Regions from separate parts of the Homo sapiens genome. Here all the other regions are linked to region 2. The links come from fine-mapping of genetic effects on gene expression. A gene starts in region 2. Each other region holds a variant in brackets. All regions are shown on one strand. Distances are between the middles of the regions. Region 1 holds the start of PLPP2 (phospholipid phosphatase 2). Region 2 holds the start of SHC2 (SHC adaptor protein 2). Region 3 overlaps C2CD4C (C2 calcium dependent domain containing 4C).

Region 1 (8,136 bases), 170 kb after region 2:
CCCACAGTCTCTCCAGTCACTGGTGTCACGGCCATGGGTGTCCCACAGTCCCTCCAGTCACTGGTGTCACGGCCATGGGTGACCCACAGTCCCTCCAGTCACTGGTGTCACGGCCATGGGTGTCCCACAGTCTCTCCAGTCACTGGTGTCACGGCCCTGGGTGACCCACAGTCCCTCCAGTCACTGGTGTCACGGCCATGGGTGTCCCACAGTCTCTCCAGTCACTGGTGTCACGGCCCTGGGTGACCCACAGTCCCTCCAGTCACTGGTGTCACGGCCATGGGTGTCCCACAGTCCCTCCAGTCACTGGTGTCACGGCCATGGGTGTCCCACAGTCCCTCCAGTCACTGGTGTCACGGCCCTGGGTGACCCACAGTCCCTCCAGTCACTGGTGTCACGGCCCTGGGTGTCCCACAGTCCCTCCAGTCACTGGTGTCACGGCCCTGGGTGACCCACAGTCCCTCCAGTCACTGGTGTCACGGCCATGGGTGTCCCACAGTCCCTCCAGTCACTGGTGTCACGGCCATGGGTGTCCCACAGTCACTGTCACTGGTGTCACGGCCATGGGTGACCCACAGTCTCTCCAGTCACTGGTGTCACGGCCCTGGGTGTCCCACAGTCCCTCCAGTCACTGGTGTCACGGCCCTGGGTGACCCACAGTCACTGTCACTGGTGTCACGGCCATGGGTGTCCCACAGTCCCTCCAGTCACTGGTGTCACGGCCATGGGTGTCCCACAGTCACTGTCACTGGTGTCACGGCCATGGGTGACCCACAGTCTCTCCAGTCACTGGTGTCACGGCCATGGGTGACCCACAGTCCCTCCAGTCACTGGTGTCACTGCCATGGGTGTCCCACAGTCCCTCCAGTCACTGGTGTCACGGCCCTGGGTGACCCACAGTCTCTCCAGTCACTGGTGTCACGGCCCTGGGTGTCCCACAGTCTCGCCAGTCACTGGTGTCACGGCCATGGGTGTCCCACAGTCCCTCCAGTCACTGGTGTCACGGCCATGGGTGTCCCACAGTCCCTCCAGTCACTGGTGTCACGGCCCTGGGTGTCCCACAGTCTCGCCAGTCACTGGTGTCACGACCATGGGTGACCCACAGTCCCTCCAGTCACTGGTGTCACGGCCATGGGTGTCCCACAGTCTCTCCAGTCACTGGTGTCATGGCCATGGGTGACCCACAGTCTCTCCAGTCACTAATGTTACAACCCTCGGTGTTGCCTCACAGCTCTCTCTTTTATTTTTCTCTCTCTCTGTGCTTCTGTTTGAATAATTTCTTTTTTTTTTTTTTTTTTTTGGGAGACGGAGTCTTGCTCTGTCACCCAGGCTGGAGTGCAGTGGCATGATGTCGATGATGTCGGCTCACTGCAACCTCCATCTCCTGGGTTCAAGCGATTCTCCTGCCTCAGCCTTCCCAGTAGCTGGGATTATAGGTGTGCGCCACCACACCCGGCTAATTTTTGTTTTATTTTTAGTAGACACGGGGTTTCACCATATTGGCCAGGCTGGTCTTGAATTCCTGACCTCGTGAGCCACCTGCCTCGGCCTCCCAAAGTACTGGGATTACAGGCGTGAGCCAGTGTGCCCGGCCTCTGAATAATTTCTATCGACATGTCTTTGATGCTACCAATCCTCTTTTCTGATATTCCAGATTTCTATTTAGTCTGTTTCACAAAATTTTTATTTCCCATATTGTATATTTTAATAGGTGCTCTTATGTGTTTTTAATTTTTCTGCTGAAATTCTCCATTTTCTCACCTTGCCCCTATCTTTTCTTCTGTAATCTTTAACCTTTTAATAATAGTTACTTTAAATCATTGTCATCCTATTGCTTTGCTTTTTTTTTTTTTTTTTTTTTTTTGAGACGAGGTCTCGCTCTATCGCCCAGGCTGGAGTGCAGCGGCGTGAACTCGGCGCACAGCAACTGCCACTTCCCAGGTTCAAGTGATATTGTCCTGCCTCAGCCTCCCGAGTAGCTGGGACTACAGGCACCCACCACCATGCCCGGCTAGTTTTTGTATTTTTAGTAGAGACGAGGTTTCACCATGTTTGCCAGGATGGTCTTGAACTCCTGACCTCAGGTGATCCACCCGCCTCGGCCTCCCAAAGTGCTGGGATTACAGGCGTGAGCCACTGAGCCCAGCCCTTTTTTTCCTTTTCTTTTTCTTTTTTTTTTTGAGACGGCGTCTCGCTTTGTTGCCCAGGCTGGAGTGCAGTGGTGTGATCTCAGTTCACTGCAACCCCTGCCTCCCAGGTTTAAGTGATTCTCCTGCCTCAGCCTCCGGAGTAGCTGGGATTACAGGCGCACACCACCACACCGCACACGCTGCCACGCCCGGCTAATTTTTGTATTCTTAGTAGAGACGGGCTTTCACCATGTTGGCCAGGCTGGTCTCAAACTCTTGACCTTGTGATCTGCCCTCCTCGGCCTCCCAAAGTGCTGGGATGACAGGCGTGAGCCGCTGTGCCCAGCCCGAAAGTTATACTCTTAAGACCCAGTCCGGGGATGCCAGGGCCTCCAGAAACAGGAATCAGGAGTCACCATCCACATTATGATGTTTCGGTGCTTCTATTTCTCTGCTGCCCGAACTGACCTTCTTCTCAGGGGCAGCGCCCTTTGTGGCGACTGAGATGGCACCAGAAGCTCCAGGCACACAACCTTACATCTGTGATTTCTGTGGGAAGCCTGTATCTTGCCCAACTGTTCTAACAAAACTCCTGGGTAAAATTTGTTCTTGGGTCTCGTGCCCATAACTGAATCAGGAACTGCCGAGCAGAAGGGGTTTCCTGGTTGGCCAGGCCAGGGTCCCTTGTTCCCCTTCGGTAGCAGGGCAGGCCCCATGGAGAAGGAATAGTAAGAGGGAGGAGCACATGGGCAGGCCGGGCGCAGCCACCCAGAGGCATGAGCGTCCCATTTGTGTGGGGTGAGCACAGAGGTCAGGAGGGCAGTGCAGGAACAACTTCCCTCTTAGGCCAAGAAATCTGAAACTGGGAAGGCAGTGGGGAGCCTTAGTGTGTTTTTTAGCTGAAGTAGAGTCACGCTTTAGGGAGATTGGATTTGACTGGAATATCTAAGATAGGTTGGAGCTGGGAGAGACCCTGGGATGCCATTGTTGACTAATATTCTGTTCTTGTCCATGGTGTCTTGTGTTTCTGAGGGTGCACTAGATGTGGGTAAGACAGTTAAGGAGCAGAGGGGATACTGTTTTGCCTCAGGAAGGGCTTGCCCCTCTCCTGTCAGCAGCTGGGTTGATGTGCTGGTCTCGAGGAGCTGGGCTGGCCTGCTCACCGCTTGTGTAGCGTAGCTTTGCCTCTGGGTTAGCTGTGGGGTGGTGGAATCCTGCCCTTCCTGCAGCCCAGACCCAGGCAGGAGGACCTGGAGGGCCCGCTGTGCCTTGGGGCTCTTCCGGATTTGTCTGACACCAGGCTCCTAGGACTAATGAGGCCTCCACCAGACTTGGTCTTGACTAACCTCAGGGGAGCTCATACCTCTCTAGAACAAACTTACTGTCCTCAGCTTTTCGGCAGCCATAAATAAAAGTCATTTGTGTTCGTTTATTTAATGCTTTCCTTTTACAGTGAAGTGAAGGTCTTTGATGACCTCCTTCCTACCTGCTAACCAAATATGGAAATCTGTTCTGGACAGAGTCCATGGCCGTGCCAGGAAGCAGGCGTTAGCCAGGGGCCTGCCTGGAGATCAGCCCTCCTGAGACAATTTCTGTGGGGGTGGAAGTGGGGGAGGGAGAAAGTCGCTCAGAACTGATGGTCCTGGACCGGCCACGGTCCCCAGAGCCTCAGCCTCCCAGGCCCAGGCTTTGTTGAAGATGTCCGGGCCCTGGACTGG[C/T]GCTGTCTGGGCCCCCACTGACCTGACCCAGCTGTTTCTCTCTCCCTGATGGTCCTTGTTTTCTCGGTTTGTAGTTCCTGGGTAGGATGGCCAGATAAAATACAGGATGCCCAGTTGGGCTCGGATTACAGATAAACGAATGTGTAAGTATGTCCCATGCAGTATTCGGGACACATACTGAAAACCGGTTTGTTGCTCTTCTGGGATTCAAATGTAACGGGGTGTCCTGTTTGTTTCACAGGTATCAGGACTCAGCTAGGGGGTCCTTGATGTTTATTTGCCCCATTGCTGGGCTGTTCTCAGGAGGATGTTGAGACCCTGGCGTGGAGCGCCTCCTCGGCGTGTCCAGCAGAGGGCGGCCGTGCCTCCCGGAGGCATCGCGGGGCCCAGAGCGCAGCCCAGCCCCGTCCCCTGGTCCTGTGGCTCGAGGTCGGGGAGGGAGGGGCGGTGGTCGCTGCGGGGCAAATGTTTCCACTCACCCGGAGCCACGACCCACGGCCTGTGCAGGGAGAGTCGAAAGCGCGGCCCCCGGTGAGCACTTGGGAGGTGAACCGGTTCCCCGCCCTGGTGGGCTGTCACCAGTCACATCAAGAGATGCAGGACGGCGGTGGCCTCACCAGAGGCATTACGAGTTCTCTGGAGCCCCTCCGCCACCACCGTCCTTGTTCTTCCTTGAGTCGGAACCAGGTCCTTGGGGTCTGTGGGTGCTCAGTGGCTTTGCAGACCTGCAAAGATTTGAGGTCTTCCAGGTGCCTCTCCTTGCCTTCACCAGATGCTGGTTTCGGGGGCAGGGATAGGGCTGCCAGGCATCAGGAAGGTTTGTGAACGGGGATTTAATCGAGTGTTTCGCGGGGTGGCCCCTGCCATCTCTGCCCCTCGTTTTGTACGAGAAGCAGGCGGAAACCAGCTCTCCCTTTGAGAACGCACTGTTGCCCTCCGCTGTTGCTTGTGTGTCTTGCCTTGCTGTGACCCAGGGAGAGCTCCCTGCAGCTGTCAGCTCCCTGGTGACCTCAGGCTCTGGGCATCCCAGTAAGCACGGCTTGCGCACCCACTGTGTGCCAGCTCCCACTTTCCTGGAGCTCGTGGGAGGAGACGGGGACAGTGAACGAACGCACAGACTGAGATGGTGGGAGGGGCTGTGCGTTCCGGGTTGTCTGCACGAGGGGCTCTGGCAGGGGGGCCGCGTCCCGGCTTGTCTGCGCGAGGGGCTCTGGCGACCACGTCCAGCACTACTGCTGTGTGTTTTTCTTTGCTGTGACCCAGTGAAGACCTCCTCACAGACAGAGCACAGCAGACTCGCGGTGCTGAAACCCGGAGGGTTACCCTGTCCCTGACTGACTGTAAGGTTACACTAAATTAAGAGGCACTCCAAGGATTGCAAAGTCCGAGGGGAATTTTGAATTCGTGGGTCCTGGATTGTGAATTTGAAGGCAGCGGTTTCCAACCCTTTTAAATCTTGACCCCAGGAAGAAGTACCTTCTACATCTTGACCCAGCAAACACGTGATACCTACCCACACTGTATTTTGTTCAATTAACCCTCAAATGATGTTTCCTAATGTTTGGCCCTGGGTCAAGCATTTCACAAACTATTTAATCTTCTCTACAATCCCAGGTGGTAGCTACTGTCTTGCCGCCTTTATGCAGACAGAGACTGAGGGATACCTTAGATGTCTTTCCAAACCATCCACCCCCTCAGCCTTCCCTGCCCACTGCCTGCACGTCAAACCCACTGACGGGCACTCGTTCGACTCCAAGAGCCCCGTGCCAGGAACCTGGGAGACAACTCCCGTTTTGACTCTGGGCAAGGTACTTCACCTCTCAAGTCCCAGAGAAGCAGAGAAAGCAACGGCAGGTATAGTGGCTGGCTGCACTTAGGTGGCACCTACTGTGTGCCAGGCCCCCTTCTGCCCACTTCACAGGTGTCTTAGTCTCCATAGAGTCCATTTGGAAACAGGCCCGGAGCCATCCAGGTTGCGATGAGGCACCAAGGTGGCAGAGCCAGTGCTGGGCAAGAGGCGGGAGCTGCAGTTGCTGAACCCGTGAGCTTGCTTGCCTGGGAGTGGCGACCTGGCCCTCAGGGGTTGCTTGTCTCTAGGGGACCCAGCCTGGGTACATGTACCACCACCCGCTTCCAGCTCTGCTATTTGCAGGTGAAGGAGAAAGCCACTGAGGCCTGGCCTCCAGGCCAGGCTCTGTCCCTGCTGGGAGCTGCCCTGGCCTCAGGTTCTTCCTGGAAGGGAGGACCAGGCAGCTGGGGGCAGCAGCAGATCCAGCTATGAAAGCCGTGACAAGAAGTTCCTTGAAGTGTGGTGGGCTGCAGTCAGCATATGTAGGAGACGACCCCAATCCTGACCCTAATCCTAATTCTTGCTTTCCCCACCAGATTTTAATCCTTATCCTGCCCAGGGATTTTAAGGGCTAACCCAAATCCTGACCCAAGGGGAAGGATGGAAGGGGGAACAGCCTGCAGCCTCACCTCCACCCTCTATCCTCCCAGGTCTACCTCCACCCCTCTCCTGGGTCTCTCCCTCTTGGCTTGGCCCCATCCCACAGCCCCCACTGTCTTCCCCCCGCTCCCACTTTGGCAGGCCCCTCCAAGTGACCTCTCCCTTGCTCCCCAGCACACAGTAGGTGCTCAATGAAGAACACCGCCTTTCCTTGACTCCAGTAGATGTTGCACCCTCTCCATCTTAGGAGAAAATGTGCGTTGGCTGTCAAGACTACACTGACAGCAGTGGTCACTCATTTGCAGACAGGGTGAAGTGTGGGGGAAAGCGCAGTAGTGACGCTGAACCCTACATTTATGTAGCATTGATGCTAGGCACCAGAACCCTCACAATCCTAATTCCGACGGGAGCTAGAGCCCCCCCACCCCACCGTGAGTGCAGCAAGGGAGCACCTCAACCCTGCCCTTGGAGGGCCACAGGTCAGCTTGCACCGTCTTCCCACCCAGCACCACTCTGGGTGCCTTTGCTGTCTCCCAAGAGCCCCTTGCCCTTGGAGTTCCCTCATGATGCCCCCCTGCCCCACGTGCAGGTGTCTGACCATCCGGGAAGCAGGGTCGAGGAGCTCCCAGTTGAAGTCCAGTTGCTGAGACGCACCCTGTTTTGGTGTTGCTGGGGCAGGGGGCTGATGGTGGTGCTGAACGGGTTTTAGAGGAGGGTCAGGGTGGCAGCGGATCTGGGGCCCAGCAGCCTTGTTTCTGACCCCAGGCCTGCCACTTCCCATTTAAGTGACCGTGAGTGGCAGAGGTCAAGGCTGGACTCCGGAAACGTGGGTCTGACACTCCTGAGGCCTCCCGGATGGTCCCAGCCGAAAGGACCCAGTGTGGGTCCCTTGGGCCTGGGTTTCCCTGGCTCAGGTGCCCTCAATCCCCAGGCACCCTCAGCTCAGGGCTCCCCACGACCTGGTGGGGGCACAGACCCCGGCGCCATTTCATGGGGTTCCCAGCTCCTGGCGCCCCCGTGCTCTTCTGTGAAATGGGACAGCAAGTGCGCTGATAGGAACGGTGCCTGGGCACAGGGCTGCGCCTGGACACCCTACGCCGTCGCAAGGTGGGTGCCGAGGAACTCGAGCTTCTAACGTGCCAGGGGTCCAAGGACGCGCCAGGATTTTGAGTATTAGGAGAAAAGAAACTCCTGAAATGAAGCCACGTCGCCCCTTCCACTTTAAGGTGCCTCCTGCTGTCGGAGTTTCCAGGCGCACACGGCGCGGCTGCCACTCCCTGAGGAGGAAAGTCGGGAACCGTCCCGCGGGGCCGGTCCCGCCGCTGCTCGTCCTCCTTCTCCACGTCCCCGCCCGGGGCTCCGCCGGCCCGACCCGCGGGGAACCTCCAGCCTCTGAGGACCTCACGCCGCTCGGAGACCCGCACAGCCCGGGTCAGGGCCGGGACTCCGGGCGGACGAGGTCCCCGTGGCGCCCGCACGCTCGCCCCACCCGCTCTTTTGGGCGCCGCGGCCAGGCGGGGGCAGAGTCCGCGCGGTCCCGGGTCCGCCGCGCCCCGCCCCCCCCGCTGCTCCCCTGCCCGCCGCTGCCGTCCCCCCTCCCTCCTCCCCTCCCCCCCTTCTTCCCTTCCCTCCCCCTCCCCCCTCCCCTCCCCGCCCCTAGCCCTCCCCTCCTCCCCTCCCCCTCCCTCCTCCCCTCCCCGCCCCTAACCCTCCCTCCTCCCCTCCCCTCCCCTCCTCACCTCTCCCCTCGTGCCCTCCCCGCCCCTCCCCTCCTCCCCTTCCCGCCCCTCCCCTCCTCTCCGCGCGGGGCGGGCTCCGCGCCACGTGACTCCGCGGCCGG
Region 2 (8,145 bases):
CTTCTACCTATCAACCGTTCCATCCATCCATCCATCCATCCATCCATCCATCCATCCATCATCCACTCATCCATCCATTTACAAATCCCTTCATGAACCATTCACTCCCCGCTCAACCACTCACCTCCTACCTATCCTGTTCACCCATCAACTCAGACAGTCAACTGCTGGAGAGTTGGAGTAAATTTGACATGCCTTCCTTTTTATGGGATCCCAGTCTGGTGGGGCAGTTAGATGCAGGTGCAGACCATCCCACCTCAGTGTGCTCACGTCTGGAGAGAGGGGAAAACCCAGGCTGTGGGGCTCTGGAAGGGCTGTGAGGGCTCTACCCTGGATGGGCTGGGGAAGGCAGCAGGGAGGAGGGGTGGAAAATGAAGGCGTGCTTGGCCCTGGGTCCAGCTTGGGCAAAGTCCTGGAGGCTTGAAACACAGACCATGTGTATGGAGGATGGGGAAGGGAGAGAAAGGCACCCAGGCTGCTTGAGAAGCGTTGTAAGCTCCAGGGTGCATGTGGGCCATGGGGAGCCAGGCCGGGTCTCTGGGCAGGTGAGGACATCAGTGCCACCTTTCCTTCCCCACTCTCTCAGGTCCGGAGGTGACGCCAGGCCCTGGGGCCTACAGCCCAGAGAAGGTGCCCCCTGTGCGCCATCGGACACCGCCGGCTTTCACCCTGGGCTGCCGCCTCCCCCTGAAGCCCCTGGACACCTCAGCCCCTGCCCCTAATGCCTACACCATGCCCCCTCTGTGGGGCTCACAGATCTTCACCAAGCCCAGCAGCCCCAGCTACACGGTGGTGGGCCGCACCCCCCCCGCCCGCCCCCCGCAGGATCCTGCTGAGATACCAGGCCCGGGCCAGTACGACAGCCCGGACGCAAACACCTACCGCCAGCGCCTGCCTGCCTTCACCATGCTGGGGCGGCCCCGGGCCCCGCGACCCCTGGAGGAGACCCCCGGCCCTGGCGCCCACTGCCCAGAGCAGGTCACCGTGAACAAAGCCAGGGCTCCAGCGTTCTCTATGGGCATCCGCCACTCGAAACGGGCCAGCACCATGGCCGCCACCACGCCCTCCCGGCCTGCGGGGCACAGGCTGCCCGGCCGCTGCTGCTAGGCCAGGCCTGTTTCCCACACAGTGAACGGGGGGCTGGCGGGCCTCTCCTGGGGCCTGGCTTTGGCTGGAGGGGCTAGAAGGCGAGAGGGGCTGGGAAAGGAGTCTTCCCTCCCCTTTCCTGAACTGTCCAGGTCCTTCTAGGACACCTGATCCTTCCAGTCCCTGGGGGCTGTGACCCATGGCCCTGTGCAGGGTGCAGGGTGAGTCTCCTTCCAGTGCCCCAGTTTCTTCCAGGTCACGCCAGGCCAGGCCAGGCCAGGTGGGGAAAGGGACACCTTCCGGCCCTCCCCAGTAGCTGGCTGGAGATGGAGCTTCCTGTGTCCCAGAACTCGGCGTCCAGCTCCACTAGGGCCTGGATCCCCATCACAGCTTGGGTTAGCCCCGGTCCCAGCCCAAACTCAGGCTGGAGGCAGCCCCGAGGCCTGTGCCTTTCCCACTCCACCTTCTACAGTTGCTTAGCCAATAAACCTTTCCTGGGCTGGAGAGCTGTCAGCATCACATGTGCTTACTCATTTAATGTGTCTTTTTTTTTTTTTTTTTTTTGAGACGGAGTCTCGCACTCCCGCCCAGACTGAAGTGCAGTGGCGCGATCTCGGCTCACTGCAAGCTCCGCCTCCCGGGTTCACGCCATTCTCCTGCCTCAGCCTCCCGAGTAGCTGGGACTACAGGCGCCCGCCACCACGCCTGGCTAATTTTTTGTATTTTTAGTAGAGATGGGGTTTCACCATGTTAGCCAGGATGGTCTCGATCTTCTGACCTTGTGATCCTCCTGCCTTGGCCTCCCAAAGTGCTGGGATTACAGGCATGAGCCACCGAGCCCGGCCTTAACGTGTCTATTGATGTCACAGAAAAGAGACCCGAACGCCGCCCTCCAGAGCCAGACCCGTAGCCCTCCAGTGGCCAGGGGGTCTGAGAGACCAGAAGAGAGACCCAGGGCGAGGGGAGGCCGGAGGTGGAGCCAAGCTTTTGAGCAGGCAGCCAGGTAGGCTTCCTGGAAGAGGCAATATTGAAGCTGGGTTTTGAAGGATGTATAGGAGCTTGAGGTATTCTAATATCTGCCATCAGTAGCTGCTTGCTATGTTTTGGATATTAATAAAGATCATCTAGGCTTCATAGCAACTCAGGACCAGGGGCATCTACTGAGAGGAAATGGTGCTTTGGAGAGACTGGACATTTGTCCTGGGGCATGCTGTGAGCCCCCACCTCAGTCTGATGTCAGGATTTGAACTCTGGATGTTGGACTGAGTTCCTGCCACTGTCTCCAAGGGACAGGAAGGAAACACACCGGGGGTGCCGTGTGACTGAGCCCTCTGTGTGCCAGGGAGGGATGGCACCTGGACCACCTTACAAACCTCCCATCCAGAAAGACCCTAATCCCGGAGCTTGGGAGGGTGCGACACTGCCCCGGGACCTCCCTGAGGGATGCAGCCTGGGAGGCATGCAGGGCGCAGAGAGGGGGTGGTGGGGCTGCTCTCTCCTCAGCCCACAGCCCTCAGCCTAGGGCCGCCAAACCTGTCCCACCCTTTACCCATTAGGTGAACACACCCCAGGACCCAGCAGCCTGGATCCCCTGCATATGCCTGGACACGCACCCAGACACAGCGTACACCCTGCGCACAACACACACACCGCGCGCAGGTCCAGCCGCGGCTCCAGCCCGACCAATCGCGCCCACGATCTGCTCCTCCCGCGGACGCGCAGGGGCTGAGTCCGACACGCGCCGCGGCAGAGACGGCCGATCGCGACCGCGCGCCTCGCTCCCCTCCCCCACCTCCCCGGCCCCGCGGGCGGCGCCGGCTGTGATCTCATCCCCTGAATTATCGATCGGGCTCCGGGCAGCCTCGCCCCTCCCTCCCTCCCCACCTGCCAGCGCGTCCCGGCCCCTCCCTTTGTTCCCGGCAATCAGCCCTGCTTGGGGCGGGGCAGGTGCAGGGGAGCTCCAGCCAAGTCGGGCCAGGAGGCTGGGTCCCGGGGTGACAGTGACACCCCGTTTTCTGGTGCAGAAGGAACCGACCCTTGAGGCCAGGGAAGGTGCGGCCGGTCTCGGAGAGGTTGAGGCTGGGGATGGAGCGACCGGCCTGGGAGGCTGAGGCCCAGAGCTCAGATGAGCTGGTGCGGGACTGGGCTCCCCAGAAGTGAGGGAAGAAGGGCCGCGACCCTCCAGCCCGCTCCCCTGAGTTACAGCCGGAGAAACTGAGGCCGGGACAGGCCGCAGAGCAGGGGCCCGGCTCCGCTCCTAGCCCCGCCCCCCCCCCCCACCCCCGAGCCGGCACTCCTGGGTTTGAGCTTCGTCTGTGAGCCCTCGGCCGCGCCCCTTCCCCTCCCCGCGCCTCAGTTTCCCCACTAAGAAATAGGGGTGACCCTAAGGTACCTTCTAGCTGCAACAACGGAGAGGGAGGGGCTGACCTTAGGGTCTGGGGTTCTCTTTTCCCTGGCCGCGCCTCCCGGGGCCTCAGTTTCCCCACTAGGAAATAGGGGAAAGAAGGGATGTGGAATTTCTAAGCTTCTCCAGCTCGGTCCTTCTGCGAACTTGGGCGGCGGGCGGGGGTGGGGGGCGCAGCGGGGAGGGTCGCTGACGGGGTTCTGGGTTCAAAGCCCCGTCCCGCCTTGGCTGCGGGTTCCAGGCCAGCGCCCGGTGTCCTCGGAGGGCCTCAGTTTCCCCAGCCTCGCGGCCAGGCTCCGGGACGAGGAGGGCCGGGGTCCCAGGGGCGCAGCCCCCCGCGGCTGCGCGCTGGGCCGGGCGGATGACATCACCGGGCCGGGGGGCGGGAGGGAGCGGGCGGAGCGGGAGGGCTTCCTCCGCGCCAGGCGCAGCGCCCGGTCGGGCTCCGTCGGGCGGCCGCGGCCATGACGCAGGGTCCGGGCGGGCGCGCGCCCCCGGCGCCCCCCGCGCCCCCCGAGCCCGAGGCGCCCACCACCTTCTGCGCGTTGCTGCCCCGAATGCCGCAGTGGAAGTTCGCGGCCCCGGGCGGCTTCCTGGGCCGCGGCCCGGCGGCGGCGCGGGCGGCTGGGGCCTCGGGGGGCGCGGACCCCCAACCCGAGCCGGCGGGCCCGGGGGGCGTCCCGGCGCTGGCGGCCGCCGTCCTGGGCGCCTGCGAGCCCCGCTGCGCCGCGCCCTGTCCCCTGCCCGCGCTCAGCCGCTGTCGGGGCGCGGGGTCGCGGGGGTCGCGGGGCGGGCGGGGGGCGGCGGGGTCCGGGGACGCCGCCGCCGCCGCCGAGTGGATCCGGAAGGGCAGCTTCATCCACAAACCCGCGCACGGCTGGCTACACCCCGACGCCAGGGTCCTGGGGCCCGGGGTCTCCTACGTCGTGCGGGTGAGTCCCCCCCACCCCCCCCGGGAGCCCGTTCGCGGCGGCCTCCCCTCCCCCACCCTCTCCTCCGGGACCCCCGGACCCCGCGAGCCAGGTGTCCCCTCCCCATCCTTCCTGCTCTCCCGCCACCCCGGACCCCCATCCCCGGCCGGCGGCCGGCGGCTGCCCCCACCCGGAGGCGCTGGGGTCCGGGTTCCCACGGCGTCACGTGGGGAGGGGCGGGGAGAGGGCGGCGGGGGAGGGGCGCGCATGCGCAGGTGCACCGCCCCCCACTCGGACTGGGCGGGCGAGGCCGAGAGCGGCGAGCGGCCGGGGCGTCTCTGCCACCGGAGCCCCCCGGACAGCTGTTCACGAATGACAGACGGGGCCCGAGACGCTGGCCTGCGGTGGGGGTGCGGGAAGGGGTGTTTGGAAAGGGGCTGGCGCCCGGACAGACCCCAGGATTCCAGATGGGAGGCAGCAGGGACTTCCAGGGCGGCCAAGGAAGCGGCCTTTGTTTATTTACCTTGGGTCTTATGATAAATGAACCTTTTCAAACACACGGGGAAGTCGGGCGCCTGGACACAGCACGCCTCCACCTAGGAGGGTAACCTTCCCCTCTGCTGACGGGTCTGCCCCTCTCTGTGGTTTATAGTAAACCGTGTGAAGTCACCTGCAGGGGTGACAGCGCCGTGCATAGTCCCCCGTCTTCTGAGAGAGCAGCTGTCCTACAGCTGCAGTCATTACGGCGTCTGGGAAAATGATCAGCCACTCCCGCACGCCACTACCGGTGGGTGCTCCCAGCTCCTCCCGGCCTCTGCGGCCAGGAACATTAGCCTGTGTTCACATTGGGTTGTGTCTTTGCTTTTCTGGACACTGAGTTCAGTAGGGTCCTTCCCTCTACACTGAGTTGAGAAGGGTCCTTCCCCTTACACTGAGTTCAGTGGGGTCCTTCCCCCTACGCTGAGTTCAGTGGGGTCCTTCCCCCTACGCTGAGTTCAGTAGGGTCCTTCCCTCTACACTGAGTTGAGAAGGGTCCTTCCCCCTACGCTGGGTTCAGTGGGGTCCTTCCCCCTACGCTGAGTTGAGAGGGGTCCTTCCCCCTACGCTGGGTTCAGTGGGGTCCTTCCCCCTACGCTGGGTTCAGTGGGGTCCTTCCCCCTACGCTGGCTTCAGTGGGGTCCTTCCCCCTACGCTGGCTTCAGTGGGGTCCTTCCCCCTACGCTGGGTTCAGTGGGGTCCTTCCCCCTACGCTGGCTTCAGTGGGGTCCTTCCCCCTACACCGAGTTGAGAGGGGTCCTTCCCCCTACGCTGGGTTCAGTGGGGTCCTTCCCCCTACGCTGGGTTCAGTGGGGTCCTTCCCCCTACACCGAGTTGAGAAGGGTCCCCCTACAATTCCTGTGCCGTAGGAGTCTGACCTTATTACCTTATATTGGGAACAGGGTCCTTGCAGATGTAACCTAGTCAAGATGAGGCCTACCTGGATCAGGGGTCTCTGTAAGGAGAAGGAACTTTAGACTCAGATGCACAGAGGAGCGGGCCGTTAGGAGACAGGCAGAGGTGGGGGCCTCAAGCCCGGGCCCACCAAAGCCTGTGGGAGCCCCCAGAAGCTGGCTGTGAAACCTCACTCCCCCACGTGTGGTCCCCAGGCGCGCTCGGCCTGCGCAGTACAACCGGCTTCTGCCTCCCCAGGACCCGCTTCCGCCTCCCCGGAACCCTCTTCCGCCTCCCCAAGACCCGCTTCCGCCTCCCCAGGACCCGCTTCCGCCTCCCCGGAACCCGCCTCCGCCTCCCCGGGACCCGCTTCCGCCTCCCCGGAACCCACTTCCGCCTCCCCAAGACCCGCTTCCGCCTCCCCGGAACCCGCTTCCCCCTCCCCCGGAACCCACTTCCGCCTCCCCAAGACCGGCTTCCGCCTCCCCGGAACCCGCGTCCGCCTCCCTGGAACCCACTTCCCCGTCCCCCGGAACCCGCTTCCGCCTCCCCAGGACCCGCTTCCACCTCCCCGGAACCCGAATCCGCCTCCCCAGGACCCGCTTCCGCCTCCCCGGAACCTGCTTCCCCGTCCCCCGGAACATGCGTCTGCCTCCCCGGAACCCACTTCCGCCTCCCCAAGACCCGCTTCTGCCTCCCCAGGACCCGCTTCCGCCTCCCCGGAACCCGATTCCGCCTCCCCGGGACCCGCTTCCGCCTCCCCGGAACCCGCTTCTGTCTCCCCGGAACCCGCTTCCGCCTCCCCAAGACCCGCTTCCGCCTCCCCGGGACCCACTTCCGCCTCCCCAAGACCCGCTTCCGCCTCCCCGGAACCCACTTCCCCCTCCGCCGGAACCCGCGTCTGCCTCCCCGGAACCCACTTCCCCGTCCCCCGGAACATGCGTCTGCCTCCCCGGAACCCGCTTCCGTCTCCCCGGAACCCACTTCCGCCTCCCCAAGACCCGCTTCTGCCTCCCCGGGACCCACTTCCGCCTCCCCAAGACCCGCTTCCGCCTCCCCAAGACCCGCTTCCGCCTCCCCGGAACCTACTTCCGCCTCCCCAAGACCCTCTTCTGCCTCCCCGGGACCGGCTTCCGCCTCCCCAGGACCCGCTTCCGCCTCCCCGGGACCCACTTCCGCCTCCCCCGGGTCTGTGCGGATGCCAGGCCTGGTTGGGTCTGTTTTCCCTGGTGGCATCGGGCCGCCCTCGCCGTCTCCCGGCGGTTTGTCCTACAAGTTTAACGCCGACGGCCGGCGTGTTCCACGGAGGACGCGTGCGCTTCCTTCACACCACATCCATTGGGACCAGTCAGGTGTGGCCATTGGCCGTGGATGTGGGATTTAGAATGTTCAGAATTCAGACGCCAGGGTTGTTGGGGCTCCGGATGTTGGGGGATAACTGCTGCTTTCCGTCACTGCAGGAAATATTTAGCATACGCTTCCCCTGCCCGGCACAGATGATGAGTAGACAATGAGAGACCTCGTTCCTGCTCTCAAGGAGCTTGGATTCCAGTAGGAGAGACAGTCAATCAGAAGAGGACAAACAGATGAGGAAATAGGTTCTGGTAGCGGCTCTGCAGAGCTAAAATCGTGTGATATTAGAGCAGGAGGCTGGGCGGCTGCCCCTCCCAGGAGGCGACCTTGAAGCTGAGACCTGAGCCATGGAAACCCCGGCCGTGGGGTTTGCAGACATAGTTCTAGACGGGGCACAGCAGGTGCAGGTGCAAAGGCCTGATATGGTGGGTTTGCAGACAGAGATCTAGGGGGGGTACAGCAGGTGCAGGTGCAAAGGCCTGATGTGGTGGGGTTTGCAGACAGAGTTCTAGTCGGGGCACAGCAGGTGCAGGTGCAAAGGCCTGATGTGGTGGGGTTTGCAGACAGAGTTCTAGTCGGGGCACAGCAGGTGCTGGTGCAAAGGCCTGATGTGGTGGGGTTTGCAGACAGAGTTCTAGTCGGGGCACAGCAGGTGCAGGTGCAAAGGCCTGATGTGGTGGGGTTTGCAGACAGAGTTCTAGGCGGGGCACAGCAGGTGCAAAGGCCCCACGCGGTGGGTTTACAGACAGAGTTCTAGGCGGGGCACAGCAGCTGCAGGTGCAAAGGCCTGACTGTGGAGTTTACAGACAGAGTTCTAGGGGCGGGGCACAGCAGGTGCAAAGGCCCCACGCAGTGGGTTTACAGACAGAGTTCTAGGCAGGGGCACAGCAGGTGCAAAGGCCCCACGTGGTGGGGATTGCAGACAGAGTTCCAGGCAGGGGCACAGCAGGTGCAAAGGCC
Region 3 (8,169 bases), 59 kb after region 2:
TTTGTCCAGCGTCTGCAGCTGGGAGCGACACGCAGTGATTGACGGCCGTGGCTTTGACGCCACGTGTGTAAATAGGCTGTGGCTACGGTGGGTGGGTCGGAGCCCAGGAGGCAGCTGGGGGGACCTGGCTATGGCCTTTCCTGCTGTTAGGTGGCTGCAAGGCTTCCATTGTGTGGTTATGTGGGTCCTTGAATGATTTTGGGGAGGTTTCCAGCTCAGAATGATGCAGAAATGATAAGACTCAAAGCAGGGGCCAGGCCAGGCCAGTGCCTTCGCCTCTCCCGGCTGCTGGTGGGCACGGAGGAACCAGGGCACATCTGTGGTACCCAGGGACGTCCCTTGTCAGCCCGTTTGCCACACATTGTTCCTCTTGTCCAGGGGAGGGTGGAGGAGCTGCTTCCCAGGACTGGAGGAGCAGCTGGGCCCCTGCTGCACGTCCGGTGGGACACACCTGTGAGCCCTCCAGAGGGAGAGTGCAGGCCCCTTCTGAGCCTGGTGTTGCAGGGCTCCGCTCTCTCCCGGAAGCCAGGGCACCCAGGGCGGAGGCTCCTCAGGCCGGGGAGGCGGGGAGGGTGCCCTGCATGGAGAGAGACGCCGGCGCTCCCCGCCTTCTCTGATGCTCACCCCTCCCAGGCCCTGTTCTCCCTGGGGTCCCCCGTTTAGTAGCCCCCCTGCACTCTTTGATATCTTAGTGTCTGAGGTTGACTGTGGGTAAATCTTTAAGACACTCCCCAGCTGTGTTTGTTTATAAATGCTGTTTATAGTGCAATAAAGGTGTTTCGGGAATACGGGGGTGGAGGTTGGCTTCCCTGGCTGTTTAATAACGAGAGAGTTCTGCGGTGAACTCCAGGGAGGAAGGAGAAGAGGATTCCAGATTGGCAAGGTCCTTTCCACTGCCCTCCGCATTCTCCTGCCCCGGGTGGAGGCAGGCGGGGGCAGGAGCCCAGCCCCTGATAAACCACCTCCCTTGGAGCGGCAGGTCTGGGTTCTGCTTCACGGTTCCAGCTCTTGACTACATGGATGTCAGGAAACAGGACTCGGACCCCACACGGTCCCTACAGGGTGGGTCCCGCCTCCCCTCAGAACCTTCAGACAGGACCCTGTCTCCACAGACCCCCTCTAGACACAGCCCCGTATCCCCCTCACACCCCTCAGGGCAGGACCCCGTTCCCCCCACACCCCTCAGGGCAGGACCCCGTTCCCCTCACACCCCTCAGGGCAGGACCCCATCCCCCCTCCACACCCCTCAGGGCAGGACCCCGTTCCCCCCACACCCCTCAGGGCAGGACCCCGTTCCCCCCACACCCCTCAGGGCAGGACCCCGTCCCCCCCCCACACCCCTCGGGACAGGACCCCGTCCCCCCCTCACACCCCTCAGGGCAGGACCCCGTCCCCCCCTCACACCCCTCAGGGCAGGACCCCGTCCCCCCTCCACACCCCTCAGGGCAGGACCCCATCCCCCCTCCACACCCCTCAGGGCAGGACCCCGTTCCCCCCACACCCCTCAGGGCAGGACCCCGTTCCCCCCTCCACACCCCTCGGGGCAGGACCCGTCCCCCCCTCAGACCCCTCAGGGCAGGACCCCATCCCCCCTCCACACCCCTCAGGGCAGGACCCGTCTCCCCCTCAGACCCCTCAGGGCAGGACCCCGTCCCCCCCACACCCCTCAGGGCAGGACCCCGTCCCCCCCACACCCCTCAGGGCAGGACCCCGTCCCCCCCACACCCCTCAGGGCAGGACCCCGTGCCCCCCCCACACCCCTCAGGGCAGGACCCCGTCCCCCCCCCACACCCCTCAGGGCAGGACCCCGTCCCCCCCACACCCCTCAGGGCAGGACCCCGTCCCCCCCTCAGACCCCTCAGGGCAGGACCCCGTCCCCCCCCCACACCCCTCAGGGCAGGACCCCGTCCCCCCCACACCCCCTCAGGGCAGGACCCCGTCCCCCCCTCAGACCCCTCAGGACAGGACCCGTCCCCCCCACACCCCTCAGGGCAGGACCCCGTCCCCCCCACACCCCTCAGGGCAGGACCCCGTCCCCCCCCCACACCCCTCAGGGCAGGACCCCGTCCCCCCCACACCCCTCAGGGCAGGACCCCGTCCCCCCCACACCCCTCAGGGCAGGACCCCGTCCCCCCCTCAGACCCCTCGGGGCAGGACCCCGTCCCCCCCACACCCCTCAGGGCAGGACCCCGTCCCCCCCACACCCCTCAGGGCAGGACCCCGTCCCCCCCTCACACCCCTCGGGGCAGGACCCGTCCCTGTGCTCTCAGCCCAGGCTGGGCTGCTCTGTCTCTCCTGCTGCCCATGGGGTCCAGATGTCTCTGCCATCTCAAATCCACCAGGAGCTTTTGGGAATTGGGGTTCAGCGTAGCCCGGCCTCCTGACCGCGGCCTGGTGAGCCCCAGTCAGGGCCTGGGACGGGTTGACAGGGCTACGGGCGCCTTGTAGCCTCTTCAGCCCCAGCCACTCATCGCTAGGCTGCACGGGTGTGTGCGTGTGCGTGCCAGGTAGGTGCACACACGTCGCCATGTGCTTCCGCATGTGTGTGCAGTGTGACTGCGTGTGCCGTTACCGTGCTCATCTGTTGGGCGTATGTGACAGTGCCAGGTGAGCGCCTGCAGGCACTCGAGTATAGCTGCCTGTGTGCTGGCGTGTGCACGTGTAAGCACGTGAGCCGTGTATGCATGTGTGACCCTGTGTGCGCTTGTGTGTGCCTGTGTCGCTGCTGGTGTGCACTTGTGTGTGCGTTTGTGTGTGCTGGTGTCTGGGAGCTGCAGCTGCCCATGCCCTCCCCCCTCCACTTCCAAGTGGGCGTCATCCAGGGATTCTGCGCCTGCGTGGTGTCTCGCCCTGCCTCAGGTCTTGGCCCACTGCCCTTCAGGTCAGCCCCCACCCCGGGGGAGTCAGATGCCCTTGTTCCCTCCTGGCTGTGGCCGTTTGCTGCCTTGTGATGTTGATCCTGAGCAGAACGAATCTACTGTTTGCACCTCCAGCATCCCTGGCGCCACAGAGCGCTCGGCCCCAGTGGGTGCTGTGCGGTGAAGGAGGCAGGCACACCTGCCAGCAGTCTCTCCTTTCAGACTGGCGGCCATCCTGAGTCTCCCGACCCTCAGGAAGGCCATGGGCACCACAAGCGGGGGGCACCCCGTTTGGTGCAAATTACAAAAAGATGCCCCTTCTTCAGAGGGGAGCCATCATAGGGAACAACAGATGAAGAGTCAGAAGCCTGGAGACATTGCGGACACCTGGATCCAGCTATGCCTGAAGTCCATAACTGCGCACCATTTCAGCTCAGAGGGTGGGCCGGTAAAGTGCCTTGTTTGCTCAAGCCGGCTTGTTTCAGTTTTTTTGTTTTGTTTTGTTTGTTTGTTTTTTGGAGACGGAGTCTTGCTGTGTCGCCCAGGCTGGAGTACAGAGGTGCAGTCTCGGCTCACTGTAGCCTCTTCTTCCAGGGTTCAAGCGATTCTCCTGCCCCAGCCTCCCAAATAGCTGAGATTACAGGCGCCCGCCACCACACCCAGCTAGTTTTTTGTATTTTTAGTAGAGACGGGGTTTCACCAAGTTGGCCAGGCTCGTCTCAAATTCCTGACCTCAGGTGATACGCCTGCCTCGGCCTCCCAAAGTGCTGGGATTACAGGCGTCAGCCACCACGTCCGGCTGATTCATTTTTTAAGGTGACAGAACACTGATCCAGTGGGTCTCTCCCATCCGAGGAGGAGGAGTAACACCTTCCCAGGGCCCCTGCCTTGCGGCCTGTCCTCTCTGGGGCCTTGAACCTCTAACCCTGACGTGTGTGGGGAGCCGCAGGGTGAGTTTCAAGCCCCACCTTCCACGTGGGGTGTGGCCCGGGGCAGTGCGTGGCTTCTCTGGGTCTCAGGCTCCCGAGGCCGAAGGCTCTGTCTGTGATGAGCCCTGGCGGCTTGTGTGCAGTAGAGCTCAATCCACAGGCTCGCCGGGCGGAAGCCGGCACAAAATAGCGACGATAATTAATATAATCACATCAGGGCCATAATTACAGGCGGCCTCAGACCCACCCAGGCGGGGGCTCCCTCGGCCTCTCTCTGCGGCACCCACCGCCCCAGTGCCGGATTCGATTAAGCTTTTGTTTTCTTCTCAGCTCCTGGGGGTGGGAGGGAGGGGCTGCCCACGGCCAGTTCCGCTGACAGGAGGAGAAAAATGACTTCAATAAAAAGGAGGAGGCGGACGCCGACCCGCACACATGCTCCTCCCACGAGGGCGGGCCATTCCCGCGGGCCGGCGCCTGAGCCTCAGTTTACCCTACTGTACAGTGACGTGGTCCCAGAGCCTCTCTCCAGGGTCACACGCAGGGCAGGGCCTGTTGATTAAGCGCATCGTGGGTGGGTGGGCGGGAGGACCCGCTGAATCCTCAGCAAGACGCTGCCTACTGCCATCCACAGATGGAAACACCGAGGCACAGAAGGCAAAGGGGCCTGCGCACACCTCCCAGCTGACAGGACAGGAATTCGGACCAGGGCTGGACCCACGCTGCCCTTCCTGGGTGGGACTGGACACCTGCTTGCATGGCCGGCCCCTGCCATCTGGCAGAGAGGGCCCCAGGGAGCTGTGCTCTGCCAGCCATGGGTCAGAATCCTGACAAGTCCCTCCGTTCTCTGTGACTCGGTTTCCTCTGCAGCACCCTGTACCCTCCCTGCCTGCTGGTGGGGCTGGAGTGGGCACGGACCCAGCACCCGTGGCACCCAGTCCTGGTCACCGGCTGAGCCCTGCTGCGGTGCCACGGATGAGACCCGCACCTTCCCCCGTGGGGTGAGGAATCCTCTC[G/A]TGCGGGGTGAGGTCTGGGCTTTGCCTTGGCTTTGGGAGGTGATTTCTGCCCTGCCTGAGGGGAGCGTCTTGGTCTGGGGTAGGGAGGGTCACACCAGCAAGACCAACCGTGGGACTTGGGAGCGCCTTGGGTCTCACAGCGTCAGACACCCTTGGAGTTCGAGGGCAACCCCGTGGCAAGCAATCAGTCAATCAAGCCCCCACGAGGGATCCCTCGCAGAGCTCTGGGCGCCTAGGCTGCCGTGCCCTTTCCTGGTGGTCCGTGCGCCCTGTGAGTGAGCAGTTCCCGGCTTCCCCGGACAGGACCACGGGGCTTCTCCGGGACGCTGCCTCATGTGCTCTTCCCCAGCCCACGGCACCTGCACCCCGGCACTGTGACAAACCCTACCTGTGACGAGGACAGCTTGCTGGGAGTTCCGTGCGTCCTCGCAAATCATCAAGCGTGAGGGTGAGCCTGGGAACCCCTGGAAGAGTGAGGGTGAGCCTGGGAACCCCTGGAAGAGTGAGGGTGGGCCTGGGGACCCCTGGAAGAGTGAGGGTGGGCCTGGGAACCCTGGAAGAGTGAGGGTGGGCCTGGGAACCCTGGAAGAGTGAGGGTGGGCCTGGGAACCGCTGGAAGAGTGAGGGTGGGCCTGGGGACCCCTGGAAGAGTGAGGGTGGGCCTGGGGACCCCTGGAAGAGTGAGGGTGGGCCTGGGAACCCTGGAAGAGTGAGGGTGGGCCTGGGAACCCCTGCAAGAGTGAGGGTGGGCCTGGGAACCCCTGCAAGAGTGAGGGTGGGCCTGGGAACCCTGGAAGAGTGAGGGTGGGCCTGGGAACCCTGGAAGAGTGAGGGTGGGCCTGGGAACCCTGGAAGAGTGAGGGTGGGCCTGGGGACCCCTGGAAGAGTGAGGGTGGGCCTGGGGACCCCTGGAAGAGTGAGGGTGGGCCTGGGGACCCCTGGAAGAGTGAGGGTGGGCCTGGGAACCCCTGCAAGAGTGAGGGTGGGCCTGGGAACCCCTGGAAGAGTGAGGGTGGGCCTGGGGACCCCTGGAAGAGTGAGGGTGGGCCTGGGAACCCTGGAAGAGTGAGGGTGGGCCTGGGAACCCTGGAAGAGTGAGGGTGGGCCTGGGGACCCCTGGAAGAGTGAGGGTGGGCCTGGGGACCCCTGGAAGAGTGAGGGTGGGCCTGGGGACCCCTGGAAGAGTGAGGGTGGGCCTGGGAACCCCTGCAAGAGTGAGGGTGGGCCTGGGAACCCCTGGAAGAGTGAGGGTGGGCCTGGGGACCCCTGGAAGAGTGAGGGTGGGCCTGGGAACCCTGGAAGAGTGAGGGTGGGCCTGGGAACCCTGGAAGAGTGAGGGTGGGCCTGGGAACCCTGGAAGAGTGAGGGTGGGCCTGGGAACCCTGGAAGAGTGAGGGTGGGCCTGGGAACCCTGGAAGAGTGAGGGTGGGCCTGGGAACCCTGGAAGAGTGAGGGTGGGCCTGGGGACCCCTGGAAGAGTGAGGGTGGGCCTGGGGACCCCTGGAAGAGTGAGGGTGGGCCTGGGGACCCCTGGAAGAGTGAGGGTGGGCCTGGGAACCCCTGCAAGAGTGAGGGTGGGCCTGGGAACCCCTGGAAGAGTGAGGGTGGGCCTGGGGACCCCTGGAAGAGTGAGGGTGGGCCTGGGAACCCTGGAAGAGTGAGAGTGGGCCTGGGAACCCTGGAAGAGTGAGGGTGGGCCTGGGAACCCTGGAAGAGTGAGGGTGGGCCTGGGGACCCCTGCAAGAGTGAGGGTGGGCCTGGGAACCCCTGGGCTGCCGTTGGGGCTGGAACGGGGGCACTGTTGTTGGGACACTGCCCTCTGACCTTTCAGCGTGGTTCACTCCAATCCCCGGGCCACAGAGTCCTCGTGGCCTCCCTGGGAGTGTGCACCTGCCCGGCCGTGGAGACACATGACCCTTGCCCCCAAGCTCCCCTCTCACCTCCCTAACCCCTTTGCCTGTGGCCCAGGCGGCTCAGAGGCACCCCCCCGCCCACCAGCCACTGTGTCCCCACCCTCCCCTCCCACCTGGGCTCCCCCAGCCAAGCCACAGAATGCTCCTTCCTCATCTCCCAAAGTCACGGGGACAGCTCAGATCAAGGACTGCAGCTCCCACACTGCCAGCCCCTCCCCCTCTCTGAGCCTCAGTTTCCTCCTGTGTAAGTGAGGTGCCCAGTGCACACTGCCCTCTAGGCTTCAGGTGATGGCAACATTGAGCTTTCAAAGCACTCACGCATAAACCTCATTCAGACCACGGGCCACTGTAGGTCAAAGGTGCGTCCGAGTGTTTACTAAGGAACGGCAGGACTGGACTGAGTTTTATACGCAGCAGGAGGAAGGAGGCACCTGCCGCTCAGGGACAAAACTCATCCGCATTTGTCAATCCCAAGCAGCGTCCAACCCCAGAGCCAGGACACTGGCAAGAGTGGAGGGAAGCGTCCACAAAGTGACCCCCGGGTGGCCGGGCTGGTCGAGGCTCTGGAATACAACTGATCCTCTGGGTGATTCGGCCCCTCGGGGACACGGGGCAACGTCTGGGGCTTCTGTGGTTGTCACGACTAGGGGAGCTCCTGGTGTGGAGTGGGCGGAGGCCAGGGACACTGCTCAGCACCCAGCAGTGCCCAGGACGGCCCCACCCCAGGGAATGATCAGCTCTGAGGCCCACCGTGCCGAGGGTCCAGGATCCAAAGAGCAGGCAGTGATGTTTTTACCCCTTTCCAAGTTCTGGATAATTTTCCCAAACCTGAGGATGAAACGAGAGAAGGCACATAAGCTGCCTAGCAAGGTGACTGCACATGGTGAGGGGTCTCACGTGTCGTCTGCACGCGGTGAGGGTCTCACGTGTCGTCTGCACGCGGTGAGGGTCACACGTGTCGTCTGCACGCGGTGAGGGTCACACGTGTCGTCTGCACGCGGTGAGGGGTCACGCGTCGTCTGCACGCGGTGAGGGGTCATGCGTGTTGGCTGTTCCCCTTTCCTTTGGCAAATGTGGACTGAGTGCTGCTGTGCCTTATGCTCGTGTCGGGGATACCACAGCTCCAGGGTGTCCCTGACATGATGTTCCCGGCCCTGCGCTCTCCAGAGCTGAGACTCACCCCATGGAGCAGTGGCCACTGGGCCTGTCCCCTCCAGACTGCTCCGCGCAATACAAAGTGGCAGTGGGTAGCTTCCAAACCCAGGCCATGAAAAGGAGGTGGCCCAGGGAGGCAGGTGCAGCTGGCAGCCCAGGTGGGCCCCAGCCTCCTGGTCTTAGAGCAGACTCCCAGATGTCATGGAGCAGGGGCACCATCCCTGGTCTGCCCGAGTTCCTTCCTGACTGAGGCTTTCTCATCGACAAGCATTGGGGTGGGTGCCTAGTCTGAGTCCTGCAA

The links. PIP is the estimated chance that this variant, and not a neighbour inherited with it, causes the effect.
Region 1: its variant is fine-mapped to the expression of SHC2 in whole blood (TOPMed, PIP above 0.99).
Region 3: its variant is fine-mapped to the expression of SHC2 in thyroid (GTEx, PIP above 0.99).

Annotation. Positions count from the first base shown.
Region 1 is chr19:291,388-299,523 of GRCh38, reverse strand. PLPP2 (phospholipid phosphatase 2) reads left to right here and starts at 8,121. Exons shown (of 6, transcript NM_003712.4): 1 at 8,121-8,136. RefSeq lists an enhancer at 4,678-5,527. The variant C/T (reference allele first, on the strand shown) is at 3,848.
Region 2 is chr19:456,806-464,950 of GRCh38, reverse strand. SHC2 (SHC adaptor protein 2) reads left to right here and starts at 3,918. Exons shown (of 13, transcript NM_012435.3): 1 at 3,918-4,422. The coding sequence starts at 3,955. It overlaps CIMAP1D (CIMAP1 family member D), which reads left to right. Exons shown (of 4, transcript NM_182577.3): 4 at 587-1,590. The coding sequence ends at 1,107.
Region 3 is chr19:398,062-406,230 of GRCh38, reverse strand. C2CD4C (C2 calcium dependent domain containing 4C) reads left to right here. Exons shown (of 2, transcript NM_001136263.2): 2 at 1-786. Among named protein-coding and RNA genes, the nearest start is that of C2CD4C, 7.0 kb to the left of the region's middle. RefSeq lists enhancers at 1-101, 7,046-8,169. The variant G/A (reference allele first, on the strand shown) is at 4,801.